2 separate regions of the Homo sapiens genome follow, and region 2 is linked to region 1. Evidence: fine-mapped expression QTL. Tissue or cell type: whole blood. Region 1 holds a variant in brackets; the other region holds the start of a gene. All regions are shown on one strand. Distances are from middle to middle.

Region 1 (8,103 bases):
TTTCACCATGTTGGCCAGGCTGGTCTCAAACTCCTGACCTCAAGTGATCCACCTGCTTTGGCCTCCCCAAAGTGTGGGATTACAGGCATGAGCCACTGTGCCCGGCTCTCATGGGTCATTCTTATGCAGCCATTTGGAGGTCAGCAATCTCTGATTTGGGGGTATTTTAGAATTCAGGAGAGAGGTGTGAACACCTGAATAATTGATTGGAAATGTTTATACTGTTTCTGATAAACCCATTTTCATTTTCAATCACCGTCTACTGGCTGCCGTCTGTGTGTATACTGGGAGACGCACACTGTAGCCCAACATTGGCTGGAAGTGTCTCCTCACACACTATGCTCCTCTCCACAGTGTCCTGGCTGAGCGACTGGAGAAGTGGCTGCAACTGATGCTGATGTGGCACCCCCGACAGAGGGGCACGGATCCCACGTATGGGCCCAATGGCTGCTTCAAGGCCCTGGATGACATCTTAAACTTAAAGGTGAGTGTGGAGCCAAGTTAGCCCTGAGGCAAAAGCTGGGGTCCCCAGTGGAACATGCAGTTCTTAGGACAGAGCAGGGGATGGGGCCAGCTGACCTAGTGAGGAAATTTAGGCTCCTGCATCAGTCTTTCTGCATAAGTAAAGAAAGGACAGTTGTGCTAATTGACATTGGCTATGAGGTCATAGCCACAGACAGGATTATGAAAGATGCAAATATGCGAAACATGGCACATGACCTCCCTCCCTCAAGCTAGGCCCTTGCTTTGTGTGGTTGGGAAATGTTGGGAGTAGCAGAGAGAGGACCTAGGCAAATAGATGGGCATTTCCTTGAAGAAATCGGTTTTCCAGTAACATCTGGGTTGTGTTGCAGCTGGTTCATATCTTGAACATGGTCACGGGCACCATCCACACCTACCCTGTGACAGAGGATGAGAGTCTGCAGAGCTTGAAGGCCAGAATCCAACAGGACACGGGCATCCCAGAGGAGGACCAGGAGCTGCTGCAGGAAGCGGGCCTGGCGTTGATCCCCGATAAGCCTGCCACTCAGTGTATTTCAGACGGCAAGGTGAGCCCTGGCTTCGTACACACCATCCTGTTTACCTTGGCTGTGCCTCCTGGGAAACTCAACACACTTTCAGATTTCAATTCTGCTTTGTCATGTAGTCTGTTAATCACACAGTGCGGATACCTGGCTGGTTTTTAAGTTGGAGTATGGTGTCCTCTGTGTGGCCTGATAGGAAACACAAATCTCCTTGCTGGACTTGTTACTTCCAAACCCTCCAAGACCGGTCTCTTGCCTTTATTGCAAAAAATGATGCTATAACACTCGAATCTCTCAAGTTGCCTGCTTGGCCCTCTTCCAAGTGTACTAAAAAAAAAAAAAAAAAGGATGCTGCACTTTCTTGAGTCAACTGAAAGTATTTATGATGGCCTCTGTGTACAGAACTGGGTTAGGCACCTGTGTTAACTATAGCTGTGTAAGACATGACCTCTGCTCAAAAAGACCTTCTCAGCTGACTTGTGGAGCTAAAGTTATCATATGAGAAATAATCATTGCATAGGGAAGTATATAGTGAATTTCTGAACTTCCCAGGGAAGACAGAGAGTAAAATAGAATGTAATACGTTTGTAAATAAAGAGTGTGTTCAGACAGTAAGTGTGGCTGGAAACGTTAAACACTTCATGGATGCTTCCTACTTGCTGGCTGAAGATGATGCTCTTGCTGAACAGTGGGGAAAGCTGTGGAACTTCTTCATTATCAGTTAGAAAAGAGAGGGTTGGATCCACAAGATTCATTTTGTCCTTGTCCCTTTGCAGTTAAATGAGGGCCACACATTGGACATGGATCTTGTTTTTCTCTTTGACAACAGTAAAATCACCTATGAGACTCAGATCTCCCCACGGCCCCAACCTGAAAGTGTCAGCTGTATCCGTAAGAATTTGTTATGTTTTGTTTTTCTAAATAATCCGTTATAATATGTGGGACAAGGCAGGGAAGGGAGACTGGACTAAGGAAGGGGGAGCCACGTAAAGGAAATTAATATCGCCAGTCCTCAGGGCAGCCTTCCTTATTTAGGACATGCAAGGAGTAGCCAGGCAAGAGAGAGTACAGGAAACCATTAGTTAATTTCAACCTCCTAGGACGGGCGTGGTGGCTCACACCTGTAATCCCAGCACTTTGGGAGGCTGAGGCAGGAGGATCACTTGAGCCCAGGAGTTCAAGACCAGCCTGGGTAATATAGTAAGCTCGCAAGTCTACTAAAAATTTAGAAATTAGCCAGATGTGGTGGTGCATGCCTGTAGTCCAGCTATTCAGGAGGCTGAGGCAGAAGGATCACTTGAGCCTGAGAGTTCAAGGCTGCAGTGAGTCATGATCACCCCCACTGCATGCCAGCCTGGGTGACAAGAGCGAGACCTTGTCTCAAAAAAAAAAAAAAAATTCTGTTGAAAATATATGGCCCTATATACATATGTGTCCAATGGTTCGTAAAGTGTTCCTTCAAATCAACAGCTACTTATTGACCACTGGTACATGCTGTTGGTACAAATACATGTATGTGACAGTAACCAGGCATAACACCCTCCAAAGTTACATGATCCTATAGTAGGTACAAAACGTGAAAGTGCCAGTAGTGTCGAAGGCAGGATATGGTTAATTGTAGGAGAGTTATTGTGGTTATTCTTTGACAATTGCTTGTGTCTCTGTCTCCAGTTCAAGAGCCCAAGAGGAATCTCGCCTTCTTCCAGCTGAGGAAGGTGTGGGGCCAGGTCTGGCACAGCATCCAGACCCTGAAGGAAGATTGCAACCGGCTGCAGCAGGGACAGCGAGCCGCCATGTAGCGTGCCAGGCTTTTTTTTTAAACTTAATTTATTTAAAATTCCTTGGTGGCTTTGGCCACAGGGAGGTGGTTGAGGCAGGGACCCAGAAGCAACCGTTATGAGCAACAAAAGGAAGACACTGGTTTGGATGGACGGGAAGCGGTTGGGTGGGCTGGACTGACGGAGGCCCCTTTAGACCTGGCGAGGTGAGTGTGGTTGGCACAGGGTGAGGAGTGTGGAACTGAAGCTGGGCTGGCCAAGCTGTGGCTGGTTTGGGAACCCAGAGGAGCTCACTACCATGTGGATTAGCAAAACTCCCCTGACCGTGCTGCTGGGGACTTACGGACTCTTTCCTCATTGTGACTCGTTTGCCAACATTATTGGCCTTTTGTGTCTTCCTTTGCCTGATGTCAAGTTTAGTGCAGAACCTCAGGCATTGCTGAGGGCTAGGAAATTGTCCTTGGGTTATAAGTGGCTGCTATAATAATAGTGATGATGATAATAATTATAGCAGGGACCTCCCTTGACATTTGAGGGGGTTTTGTTATTGTACAGGAAATGGAATTTGGATCCCAGAGATGCTCCAAGACTGTTCCTTGTGGTCCCTGCAGGATGAATCTCCTCCGAAACAACAGCTGCCTCTCCAAAATGAAGAATTCCATGGCTTCCATGTCTCAGCAGCTCAAGGCCAAGTTGGATTTCTTCAAAACCAGCATCCAGATTGACCTGGAGAAGTACAGCGAGCAAACCGAGTTTGGGATCAGTGAGTGTGCACTTTGCAATGAGTTTAAAGACACCATTTTTTTTTCTTTTTCTCTTTCTAAGGTTTCTTTTGTCCTATTATAATTGAGTTGCTTATTTCTGTTTCAGTTTTGTGGTGTTTTTATTTTGTTTTGTTTTGTTTTTCCTTCTCAATTTTTTTTCAGCATCAGATAAACTGCTGCTGGCCTGGAGGGAAATGGAGCAGGCTGTGGAGCTCTGTGGGCGGGTAGGAGACTCATTTTGGGTTTCGGAACTTACCAAGGGGGTGAGATTTTGTGCTCCCACTTTTCACTTTCTCATCAAACACTGGGTCGATCTCTGTCAAAAATCAGGTGTTCCTCACCATGCTTTGAGCTTAACTGGACCAGCTGAAAAGAGGCCAAGAGAGTAGCCAGTGAAGGGAGCCCCTCTGTGGCCAGATGCAAGAGCTGCATGAATGGACAGAGATGGTCCAGGTTTAAATAAGAAGCAAGGGTTAGGTTCCCTTGGGGAAAAGCCAAGACCATTTCCTGTTAGGAAGGGCATTGGATGGATGATCAACACTCCCTCTTGTCGAAGGTTTTTGACTAATTTTGTTGGGATGCTAAATCCATAGGAAATAAAAGGTCTAGGCAGAAAGTCTCAGGGCAGCGTAAATCAGATGTCACCAAAAAAAGTTAATTATGAAGGCAAAGGAAATACATGTGACTTAATGAACCTCACACAAACTGAAGGTTGAAGTCAGGCTCCGGGGCTTTTTCCTGGACTTATCCTCTGTTTTCCCCTGTGTACTTGGGCAAGGATCTTCACCTGTGTCTTAGTATCGATTTTTATGAATCAGTACTGATGGAGTATATGTGTGTTTAATGGTGAATATTAACCATAGAAGGGCTGAGTGCTCCTCCCCATCTTGGGACTCATAATCTGTGAAATAAAACAGTCTGGGCCTCCCTGCCCGGGTAGCATCAGGATAGACAGATGAAGAGAAGAGAAAGTAATGTGTCTTGGGCATCTTCTGTATGCCAGGCACCATGCCAGAGGCTTTAAGTACTTCATCTTACTTGACTCCTCAGATGGCCCTGTTAGAAGCCTATTTTATGCAAAAGGAAACTGTAGCTGGGGGTAAGTAACTTGCCAAGGGGTCACACAGCTAGAAAGCGGTGGACCCTAGATGCAGGCGCAGCCATTCAGACCCCACAGTCCACATTCCTTT[G/C]AGCCAGTCCATTGAGGGTCCTCAGGGAATGTGGCGGGTCCCCTGGTCTCGCTCCCCCGCAGATCTTGCATCTCAGCATGCGCCTACCACATCAGTTGACATTAGCACAGCTTTTCCATTAGGAGAACGAAGTGAAACTCCTGGTAGAACGGATGATGGCTCTGCAGACCGACATTGTGGACTTACAGAGGAGCCCCATGGGCCGGAAGCAGGGGGGAACGCTGGACGACCTGTGAGTACTGGCTGGGGGGCCCCTCTGTGCCCAGCACACACAGACAGCCCTGGAGCTTCGGTGTGTGTGTCAAGGGCACCCTCAGTGGCTGTGCGGGACCATTCTCTAGAGCATGCTTCCCTGTGGGGTCACTTCCAGCAAATCATCACTGAGCTTCAGTTTCCAAATCTGTTCAGTGACAAGAAAAACAGTCTTAAGTCACGAAGTTGTAAGGATGAATTCAGATAATGCATTTGAGACGCAGGCCATAATCTGTAAAGGCTGTAAAATGCAAGCAGCCTCTACCCCTGTAGCAGACTCCCCTGATTTGTTCCACCCACCCTGACTCAGGCATAGCTCAGAGCAGAAAGTAAAACAGAGAAGGAAGAACCTGATGAGGCTTAGGAGTTTGGACCTGGAAACTATTCGTTTGAGTCTTTGTCAGGTATTTGGCATTGGCTCCATGAGGGGCGGAGGGGTCTAGGCAGATCACTCCTACCTGAAGGAGATCACATGTGCTCCTGGCGTACAGATGGAGGGAACCAGGCAGGCCGCTTGAGGGCTGTGTCACCGTGAGCTCAGCAGTGTTCCCTGATTCTCTCACTAGGATTCTTAGGACAGGAGCTCCAAATGTCAGAACTTTGATTCTGTATTTTCTCTAATTAACCCTTTATTCTCCTCTAGTTCTTTTATTTGTATTTGTATTATTTTTTTAAGAGACAGGGTCTTGCCCTGTTGCCAATGCTGGAGTGCAGTGGCACAATCATAGCTCACTGCAGCCTCGACCTCCCAGGCTTATGCAGTCCTCCCATCTCAGCCTCCCAAGTAACCGGGACTACAGGCGCATGCCACCATGCTCAGCTAATTTAAAAAAAAAATGTTTTTGGCTGGGCACAGTGGATCACATCTGTAATCCCAGCACCTTGGGATGCCAAGGCAAGAAGATTGCTTGTGAGCCCAGAAGTTCGAGACCAGCCTGGGCAACATGGTGAAACTCTACCTCTACCAAAAAAATGTAAAAATTAGCCATATTTGACCTCAAGTCTAGACAGAACTTCTTTGTATATTTTAGAGAGGAGCAAGCAAGGGAGCTGTACAGGAGACTAAGGGAAAAACCTCGAGGTAAGTGGGGTTCTGTGTCTGCCTTGGGCTTCTCCTTATCTCATTTATGGGGCATCACTACTCTCTGCTGGCTTCCTTGAGGAACTATGCTACCCTCCCTCTCTCCAGACCAGCGAACTGAGGGTGACAGTCAGGAAATGGTACGGCTGCTGCTTCAGGCAATTCAGAGCTTCGAGAAGAAAGTGCGAGTGATCTATACGCAGCTCAGGTATGAGCCCCGACCTTCCTGCTCTGGAGGAAGGACTGGGAGATGCAGGTATGAGGTCACCTTCCTCCCTCCTCTCTGATTCGCTGGACCTCATGAAGAGAGTTTCTGCAGCTGCTGACTGGATGCACAGCTGCCACAGGTTCTGCTTTCTCCAGCCCAAATGCCATTAGTTTGCCATGTTTATTCTTTGCAGTAAAACTGTGGTTTGCAAGCAGAAGGCGCTGGAACTGTTGCCCAAGGTGGAAGAGGTGGTGAGCTTAATGAATGAGGATGAGAAGACTGTTGTCCGGCTGCAGGAGAAGCGGCAGAAGGAGCTCTGGAATCTCCTGAAGATTGCTTGTGTGAGTGAGTGCTGTGGTCCCGGGCCCTTGGCCTAGCAGCCTCCTGTGCCTTTCCACCTCTGTGCACTGCCGCCATCCCACACGGGACACCACAGAGCCACCAGCAGCCCACTCAGCTGCTGCTCGGGCTTCACGTCGCTGTTCTTTGACTTGGTGTAAGCGGGGAGGTCAGAGGAAGGGCCTGTGCTAATTGTTTTCATTCATCTGTGTATTACTTTCGTGTGGCTACTGTAAAGATTAGCACAAACTGAGGGGCTAAAACAACAGAAATTTGGGCTAGGCATGGTGACTCATGCCTGTAACGCCAGCAATTTGGGGAGGCTGAGGTGGGAGGATTGCTTGAGCCCAGGAGTTCAAGACTGCAGTGAGCTGTGATCATGCCACTGCACTCCAACCTGGGCAGCAGAGCTGTCTCTACTAAAAACAAAAACAAACGTGTTATCTGAGCTCTAGAGCCCAGGAGTTGAAAGTCCCGTGTCAGCAGGGCTGAGCTCCCTCTGAGGGCTCTTGGGGAGGGACTGTCCTTGCTTCTTCCAGCTCCTGGTGGTTCCAGGCGTTCTTTGGTGTGTGACTCCAGTCTCTGTCTCTGTCTTCATGGGACCCCTGTGTCCCTTATCTGGGTGACTCTTACAAGAACACTTGTCATTGGATTTGAGTCCCACCCAAGTAGTCCAGGGTGATGTCATCTCAGGTTCTCTAAAGACGCTTTCTCCAAGTACGGTCACACTCACAGGCTCCAGGAGTTGGGATGTGGGCATATCCTTCTTAGGGCCACCAATTCAGCCCACCGTCATGCACGGCAGTGCAACTTGGTTGACCATCGTCTGCGTCTGCACTGCCCTCAGTGCAGTAAGCCACGCTTTCTGTGCACACCGTCTTAACGTAGCTGTGAGTCCATGGGATGCCACATGGTGGGGAAATGGGAAACAAAACAGCCAAGAACTGAGACGGGCAGGCCTGGCCGTGTTGTGGGAGCCAGAGCTGTTGGGACTGCAAGCCCCATTGTGAAAGGCTGCAGAGAAGGTGACATGGATGAAAGAGTGATTTAGGTGTCAGTTTCCCTTAAGAGCAAAGGGAAGGAGAGAGGGAGATGGTTGCTCATGGTGGAAGCAGGAGATGGTGCATTAGGAGATTCTCATTGTCAAAGGCAGAGGGGACAATCCACACACAGTGCAGAGAACAGAGGGGCTGGGGTCGCATGCCAGAGCACTGAGCATGCCTTGGGAGCGTGATTGACACATCCTCCTGTAAGAAGAGAGGAACGGGAGAAAACAGGATGACGAGGTAGAGAGGATCTGAAGAGGAGAGGGAGGTGCAGGTATGCGCAGGTGATAGCCTGATGTGCCATCTACATCCATTGAGCATTTACTGAATGCTAACTATATGCCCAGCAAGACACACAGGTGAGAAGGCATGGCACCTGTTCCCAGGAGGGCCTGATCCTTCAAGGGGCACAGACAGAGG
Region 2 (8,103 bases), 49 kb before region 1:
CAACTCCATCTTGAATAGGAGCTGGGTAAAATGAGGCTGAGACCTACTGGGCTGCATTCCCAGATGGTTAAGGCATTCTAAGTCACAGAACGAGACAGGAGGTCTGCACAAGATATAGGTCATAAAGACCCTGCAGATAAAACAGGTTTCGGTAAAGAAGCCGGCTCTAACCCACCAAAACCAAGATGGCCACGAGAGTGACATCTGGTCGTCCTCACTGTTATACTCCCACCAGCACCATGACAGTTTACAAATGCCATGGCAACATCAGGAAGTTACCCTATTTGGTCTAAAAAAGGGAGGCATGAATAACCCACCCCTTGTTTAGCATAAATAAATAAACATAAAAATGGGCAACCAGTAGCCCTCGGGGGCTGCTCTGTCTAAGGAGTAGCCGTTCTGTTATTCCTTTACCTTCTTTTTTTGTTTGTTTTTTTTTTGTTTTTTTTTTTTTTGAGGTGGAGTCTCGCTCTGTCGCCCAGGTTGGAGTACACTGGCGCGATCTTGGCTCACTGCAAGATCCATCCACCTCCTGGGTTCACACCATTCTCCTGCCTCAGCCTCCTGAGTAGCTGGGACTACAGGCGCCCGCCACCATGCCTGGCTAATTTTTTGTATTTTTAGTAGAGACGGGGTTTCACCGTGTTAGCCAGGATGGTCTCCATCTCCTGACCTCGTGATCCACCTGCCTCCCAAAGTGCTGGGATTACAGGAGTGAGCCACCATGCCTGGCCCCTACTTTCTTAATAAACTTGCTTTCACTTTACTGACTCGCCCTGAATTCTTTCTTGCGCGAGATCCAAGAACCCTCTCTTGGGGTCTGGATCGGGACCCCTTTCCTATAACGGTACTGTACTGTGGTACTAATTACTGCAGAACAAATCCGTGTGTGATTTTATATTGCCTGGCCTTTGTCTGTCCTTACTTCATGGCTCCCTGTGGGTCTTAAAAACCCAGTAAGATTCTAAGTGCCTCTGATGAGATCTCATTCCATTGCTTGGATCCCCTGGGTCAGTAATGCCCTGGGCTGAGCTAGGCACTCTGGCTGGTCAGTATTTCTTGATTTCCCTATAGCACAGCTAAAAAGCACACTCAGCCTCAAAGCAGGAAGAAAAGGGGACATTTTTCTGCTGAATCTGAAAATATCTTTTGTAAACAGTCTGCTCATATCTCCAGAGCAGGACAGAAACCAGATGCAGGCAGAGATAGCTAAACATGTCTTATCTGGATAGAAAATTGAGCTTAAGATAATAAATATCTTGGAATATGATAAAACCCAGAGGCCCCTTCCTGGTCCATGATTAATTGAAGAAAAAAAAAGCCTAGTAATACGTGACCTTATCAGAGAGATTTATGTTCAGTTGAAAGCCAAGTTATTTTGAGCTGAGCAAAATGAGGATTCAAATTACAGGAGCGCAGAGTAAACTTTTGGCATATTAGCGGACATCTTGGTAAGTTTCTCAGGACAGTGTTTTTCAGAGATGACAGGATTAAAGAGAAACCTTTTATGACATTGTACTGGAAATGGACTCTCCACAGTGCCCAGCACATATAGGTGCTCAATAATTTTTTTTTTTTTTTTTTTTTTTAGATGGAGTTTTGCTCTTGTCGCCCAGGCTGGAGTGCAATGGCACGATCTCGGCTCACTGCAACCTCTGCCTCCTGGGTTCAAGCGATTCTCCTGCCTCAGCCTCCCGAGTAGCTTGGATTACAGGCACGTGCCACCACGCCCAGCTAATTTTTTTGTATTTTTAGTAGAGATGGCGTTTCACCATATTGGCCAGGATGGTCTTGATCTCCTGACCTCGTGATCTGCCCGCCTTGGCCTCCCAAAGTGCTGGCATTACAGGTGTAAGCCACTGTGCCTGGCCTAATTTTTGTATTTTTAGTAGAGACGGGGTTTCACTATGTTGGCCAGGCTAGTCTTGAACTCCTGACCTCAAGTGATCTGCCTGCCTCGGCCTTCCAAAGTGCTGAGATTACAGGGGTGAGCCACCACACCCGGCCAAATTTTTTTTTTTGAGATGGAGTCTCGCTCTGTCGCCCACGTTGTAGTGCACTGGTGCGATCTCCACTCACTGCAACCTCCAGCTCCTGGGTTCAAGTGATTCTCCTGCCTCAGCCTCCCAAGTAGCTGGGATTATAGGCACCTGCCACCACGCCCAGCTAATTTTTGTATTTTTCGTAGAGACGTGGTTTCACCATGTTGGCCAGGCTGGTCTCAAATTCCTGACCTCAAGTGATCTGCCTACCTTGGCCTCCCAAAGTGCTGGGATTACAGGCATGAGCCACCTCACCTGGCCAATAAATATTTTATTTAAAAAATTTACTTATTAAGCAAACACTTATATTGCACTTAGACAATGCAGTCACTATTCTACGTGTGTTACAACTATTTACTCATGTTCCTGTTGCTTCTGGCCTTGAGGCTGAGCTTGCCATTTAGCTGGGAGTAATCAAGAAATACCAGGCCAGAAGCGGTGGCTCACACCTGTAATCCCAGCACTTAGGGAGGCCAAGGCGGGAGGATTGCTTTGAGGCCAGGAGTTCAAGCCAAGTCTGAGCAACATAGTGAGACCCCCATGTCAACAAAATAAAATTTAAAAATTAGCTGGTCATGGTGGCACGTGCCTGTAATCTCAGCTAGTGGGGAGGCTGAGGCGGGAGGACCCCTTGAACCCAGGAGGTCAAGACTGCAGTGAGCCGTGATCCTGCCACTATACTCCAAAGTGGGCGATAGAGAAAGGCCCTGTCAAGAAAGAAAAAAGAAAGAAAAGGAAAGAAAAGGAAAGGAAAGGAAGAAAGGAAAGGAAAGGAAGAAAGAAAGGAAAGAAAAAAAAGAAAGCTAGCAGCTGGGAAGGGAAGGGGAGGGGAAGCGAGGGGAGGGGAGGGGAGGGGAGGGGAGGGGAGGAAAAGGAAAGGAAAGAAGGAAAGAAGGAAGGAAGGAGGAGAGATAGGAAGGAAGGAAAAGAAGGAAAAGAAAGAAACCAAGTAGCCGGGAAGGGAAGGGAAGGGGAGGGGAGTGGAGGGGAGGGGAGGAGAGGGGAGGGGGAAGGAAGGAAGGAAAAGAGAGAGAGAGAGAAAGAAAAAGAGAAAGGAGAGGGAAGAGGGGAGAGGGGAGAAACCGAGCAGCCAGCGTGCCTAGCACAGCCCTGGACACCATTGACCCCTATGTTTGGGTTGAGATCTGTCCCTGAGTTAACTTCAACCCCAGGGCTGTCAGGCACTGCTGCTATCAATACCTCATTTGTCCCTCACAACAACTCTGGGGTGGCCTCCTTTCTATGACTTTCTATGAGCCCGCCTGTCCCCCTGCTATTACAATGAAGCAGATGAAACTGCTGATCTTTGTTACTGATGTTTTGGCTGTTTTCAATTTCCAAAAAATGACAATTAAATGCAATTCAACCTAATATTGCCTAAATTTTAAAAGAGGAAATAGGTTCTCACAGTGTTTAAGTAACCAGCCCCCGTGCCTCAGAGGTAGTCAACAGCAGTATCTGGATTCAAAATCCAGTTTGCCTCCTTCTGAACTTCTTAACATGCTACTTTTAGCCACGGATTAAGAACCCGGGAACCAGTTGCTAGGGTTTGAGTATCAGCTCATCTACGTAGCAGCCATGTACCTTGGAAATAATAATAATGCAGACCAGGTGCAGTGGCTCACAGCCTGTAATCTCAACACTTTGGGAAGCCCAGGCGGGTGGATCCCTTGAGCCCAGGAGTTGGAGACCAGCCTGGGCAACACAGTGAGTGAGACCCCGCCACCAGGTATGGCGGCCGCGCACCTGTAGTCAGGAGAATCACTTGAGCCCAGGAGTTGGAGGTTGCACTGAGCTGTGATCACACCACTGCACTCCAGCCTGGGTGACAGAGCGAGATAATAATAATAATGATGATGATGATGCAGTATTTTCCAATTTACAGGGTTGCCCTGAGGATTGAATAAGGAAATCTAAGTACAGAGATTTAGAACAGAGCCCTGCACTGTGTAAGCACTCTATAGATGTGAGCTATTATTATCATCTTCAGGTTCCTTTGGTAGTTTTTTTCTGCTTGAATAAAATATAGCAACACACACACACACCTCCTTTGTCCACTAATGTAATCCCATAAAACGGAGAAACTCAGCAGTGAGGACATTCTGATTCCAAGCAGGAAGGAGATGAACGATGAACCTCAGGCTGAGCGCCTCACGGTTTCCTCATGTCACCGGGGCTGGGGGTGCAGTTTGGCTTCACACTGCTAGGTCTTTTCTTGTTTTTAAGGGGGCAGGGGCTGTCACCTCTGAGGAGTCAGCTGTGATTGATCCTTCTCCACACCCAGCCAAGCACCCCCCAGACAGGGGAGCGCCCGCAGTAGGGCGGTAGGCAAGGGCAGTTCTAGCCAACAGTCCCTAAATCATCCCAGCGGGGGCGCGGGAAATTCCACCGAGGTGAAAGCCTAGGGGGCCGGGTGAAGAAATCCCCATACCCGGGCCCAGAAACCGCTCCAGGTGGAAGTAACTTGTCTAAAGAGAACAGGGTGTAACGGGGGTCATTTCAGGGCTGTTCTTTTAAATCGGTGAGCACGGTCTGTCTACTTTCCCTCAGTTGTCTAGAGACCACACGCCACCCCCGCCCCGGGGGAGTCGCCCGGTCGAGGGTCCCGGGACAGGCGCAGCACTCGCAGCATCCGGACCTGGTCTGCCTCGCGCCGGGAGCGGCCTCTTTAAGAGCGGCCGCGGCCAACGTGCTCCGTGACGTCAGAGCAGGAAGTGTTTGAGGAAGTCGCGCCGCGCTGCCCGCGTTAAGATTCCCGCATTTTAATGTTTTCAGGGGGGTGTCATAGCCCCGGGTTTGGCCGCCCCAGCCCCGCCTTCCCCGCCCCGGGGAGCCCGCCCCCTGCCCCGCGTCCCTGCCGACAGGTGAGTCCCCCTCGTGGGTGCGGCCCGGGTGCCACCTGCAGGCCCCGCCGCCCCGCTGCCTGCAAGGCCCGGAAGACCCCTCTGTGCCGCTGGGAAGTCGCAGCTTGCGGACTGGGGAGCGTTTCACTTGTGCGGGTTGGAGTTCGGGAAGCCGGGAGAAACAGCTCTCCCTGGGGTGGCTTCTTGGGGGTGGGTGGCTTTGAGGGGAACCTGCGATTTATGGGAACATTGTAAAGAAACACGTGACCTCGGCGATGCTCAGAAGTAGGTTCTGCCCCTGCCACCTCGGGCAGAAGGCGGGCAGGCCCGGGCGCCCCTGGTGGAGTCAGCTGGGGATCCCCTCGCTAGGGCAAGGGCGTGGGCATCGCCTCCCTCGGTGACTTTCTTCCTTGCCTGATGCCACAGCAACCGGATGGGGGAGGGTGAGAGGGACAAAAGTTTGCCACAAAGTTTGGACCAACCAAACACATTGGTTTCTTTACAAAATAAAAAACCAGTTGTATTTTTCTTCTCTCCCATTCAAGAGCAGTGGTATCTCTTGCCTTCTCCATCCCTTTGAGCTCCATTTTTTTCTTAATCCTAACCTTTTTTCCCCATCCCAAATTGCTTATAGAGTTAGCACGACATCAGTATGAGCTGGTCACCTTCCCTGACAACGCAGACATGTGGGGCCTGGGAAATGAAAGAGCGCCTTGGGACAGGGGGATTTGGAAATGTCATCCGATGGCACAATCAGGTAGGCCCTCTGTGCAGCTTGGGGAGGGGCGGGGAGCCAGGCCCCCTCCTCACTGCCTCCACTTTCTCTGATCCTGCTGGGCCAAGGGCTCACCTTTGGCTTTGGTCATCTTGGGACAGTGAATAGGGGGACTGGGAAGAGGGCTTCAGGACTTCTGAGCTGACTCCAGGTTAGTGGTCTCCATGCTTTATTGACTATGTCACCTAAATAAATAGTAAAATAAAGTTAAGCTCTTAGTCTCTATTATATATATATGGTAACAGTAGAATATCATGTACTAATATATACTGATATTATATGTTATAAAACATATAGAAATAGGAAAATTTAAAGGATGAGACTAAATAAATAATTTAAAATATTTTAATTCCTTGAGGCCAGTAGTTCAAGAGCAGCCTGGGCAACATAGCAAGACCTCGTCTCTACAAAAAAGGTTTAAAAATTAGGCAGCCAGCTGGGCGTGGTGGCTTATACCTGTAATCTCAGCACTTTGGGAGGCTGAGGCAGGCGGATCACGCAGTCAGGAGATGGAGACCATCCTGGCTAACACTGTGAAACCCCATCTCTACTAAAAATACAAAGAATTAGCCAGGCTTGGTGGCACGTGCCTGTAGTCCCCAGCTACTTGGGAGGCTGAGGCAGGAGAATCGCTTGAACCCATGAGGCGGAGGTTGCAGTGAGCCAAGATTGCGCTACTGCACTCCAGCCTGGGTAACAGAGTGAGACTCCGTCTCAAAAAAAAAAAAAAAAAAAAAACCTTAGGCAGCCTTGGTGCGTACCTGTAGTCCCACTACATTGGAGGCTGATGTGGGAGGATTGCTTGTCCAGGAGTTTGAGGCTGTAGTGAGCTATGATTGTGCCACTGCACTCTAGCCTAGGTGACAGAGTGAGACCTTGTTTCAAAACCATTTTTTAAAAATTATTTTAAATGTCGGGTGCAGTGGCTTACACCTGTAATCCCAGCACTTTGGGAGGCCGAGGCAGGAGGATCACTTGAGGTCAGGAGTTTGAGACCAGCCTGGCCAACATGGTGAAACCTCATCTCTACTAAAAATACAAAATTAGCTGGTGTGGTGGTGCATGCCTGTAACTTCAGCTACTCAGGAGGCTGAGGCAGGAGAATCGCTTGAACCCAGGAGGCAGAGGTTGCAGTGAGCCGAGATAGTGTCACTGCATTCCAGCCTGGGTGACAGAATGAGACCCTGTCTCAAAAAATATATATATATATATATATTTAAAATATTTGCTAATTATGATGTCTTCCCAGTATTGCTTGCGATACTGCACGGCAAAAAATAAGCAGATCCACATGAAAGTGAGAATTCATTTAGAATGATGATGAAAATCCATATTTCAAATAATTAACATTTTTTTAAATTTTGTAGAGATGGGGTCTTGCTATGTTGCCCAGGCTTGTCTCAAACTCTCATCCTCAAGCAGTCTTCCCGTCTTTGCCTCCCAAAATGTTTGGATTACAGGCCTGAGCCATGGGACCTGGCCTCAGCTGAGGTTTTTTTTTTATTTTTTGTAGTGATGGTGGTCTCACAATGTTGTCCAGGCTCGTCTAGAACTCTTGGCCTCAAGTGATCTTCCTGCCTTGGCCTCTCAAAGTGCTGGGATTACAGCCATGAGTCATTGAACCTGGCCTGTTTTTATTTTTAATTGACACATAATAATTGTACATATTTATGGGGTACAGTGTGATATTTTGATACATAATGTGTAATGATCAAATCGGGGTAATTGGCGTGTTCATCACTTGAAACACGTATCCTTTTTGTTGGAAACAGTCAAAATTCTTTCTTCTGGCTATTTTGAAATATACAATATTTTTTTTTTTCCGGAGACAGAGTCTCGCACTGTTGCCCAGGCTGGAGTGCAGTGGTGTGATCTTGGCTCACTGCAACCTCCGCCTCTTGAGTTCAAGTGATTCTCCTGCCTCAGCCTCCTGAGTACCTGGAATTACAGGTGTGCACCACCATGCCAGCTAATTTTTGTATTTTTAGTAGAAATGGGGTTTCACCATGTAGGCCATGCCGGTCTCAAACTCCTGACCTCAGGTGATCTGCCCACCTCAGCCACCCAAAGTGCTTGGATTACAAGCGTGAGCCACTACGTCCGGCCTGAAATATACAATAAAGTTTTATTCACTGTAGTCACCCTGTTGTTCTTTAGAATACTGTAACTTATTCCACCTAACCGTAATTTTGTACCCATTAACCAGTCTCTCCCTATTTCCCTCCACAACTCCCCCCACCCCCACCACCCTTTCCTGCCTCTGGTGACCACTATTCTACTTTCTACTTCTGCGAGATTAGTTTGTTGTTGTTGTTGTTGTTGTTTTGAGACGGAGTTTTGCTCTTGTCGCCCAGGCTGGAGTGCAGTGGCGCGATCTTGGCTCACTGCAACCTCTGCCTCCCAGGTTCAAGTGATTCTCCTGCCCCAGCCTCCCGAGTTGCTG

What was found. PIP is the estimated chance that this variant, and not a neighbour inherited with it, causes the effect.
Region 2: it holds the start of IKBKB, and the variant in region 1 is fine-mapped to the expression of IKBKB in whole blood (TOPMed, PIP above 0.99).

What each region holds. Positions count from the first base shown.
Region 1 is chr8:42,315,856-42,323,958 of GRCh38, forward strand. IKBKB (inhibitor of nuclear factor kappa B kinase subunit beta) reads left to right here. Exons shown (of 22, transcript NM_001556.3): 10 at 355-484; 11 at 855-1,049; 12 at 1,802-1,916; 13 at 2,697-2,820; 14 at 3,415-3,566; 15 at 3,730-3,791; 16 at 4,880-4,989; 17 at 6,041-6,090; 18 at 6,199-6,298; 19 at 6,492-6,639. Among named protein-coding and RNA genes, the nearest start is that of POLB, 19 kb to the right of the region's middle. RefSeq lists enhancers at 6,082-6,583, 6,584-7,083. The variant G/C (reference allele first, on the strand shown) is at 4,758.
Region 2 is chr8:42,266,564-42,274,666 of GRCh38, forward strand. It overlaps IKBKB (inhibitor of nuclear factor kappa B kinase subunit beta), which reads left to right and starts at 4,739. Exons shown (of 22, transcript NM_001556.3): 1 at 4,739-4,906; 2 at 5,520-5,642. The coding sequence starts at 5,538. IKBKB-DT (IKBKB divergent transcript) reads right to left here and starts at 4,687. Exons shown (of 4, transcript NR_185843.2): 1 at 4,088-4,687. RefSeq lists an enhancer at 3,734-4,233 and a silencer at 4,730-5,019.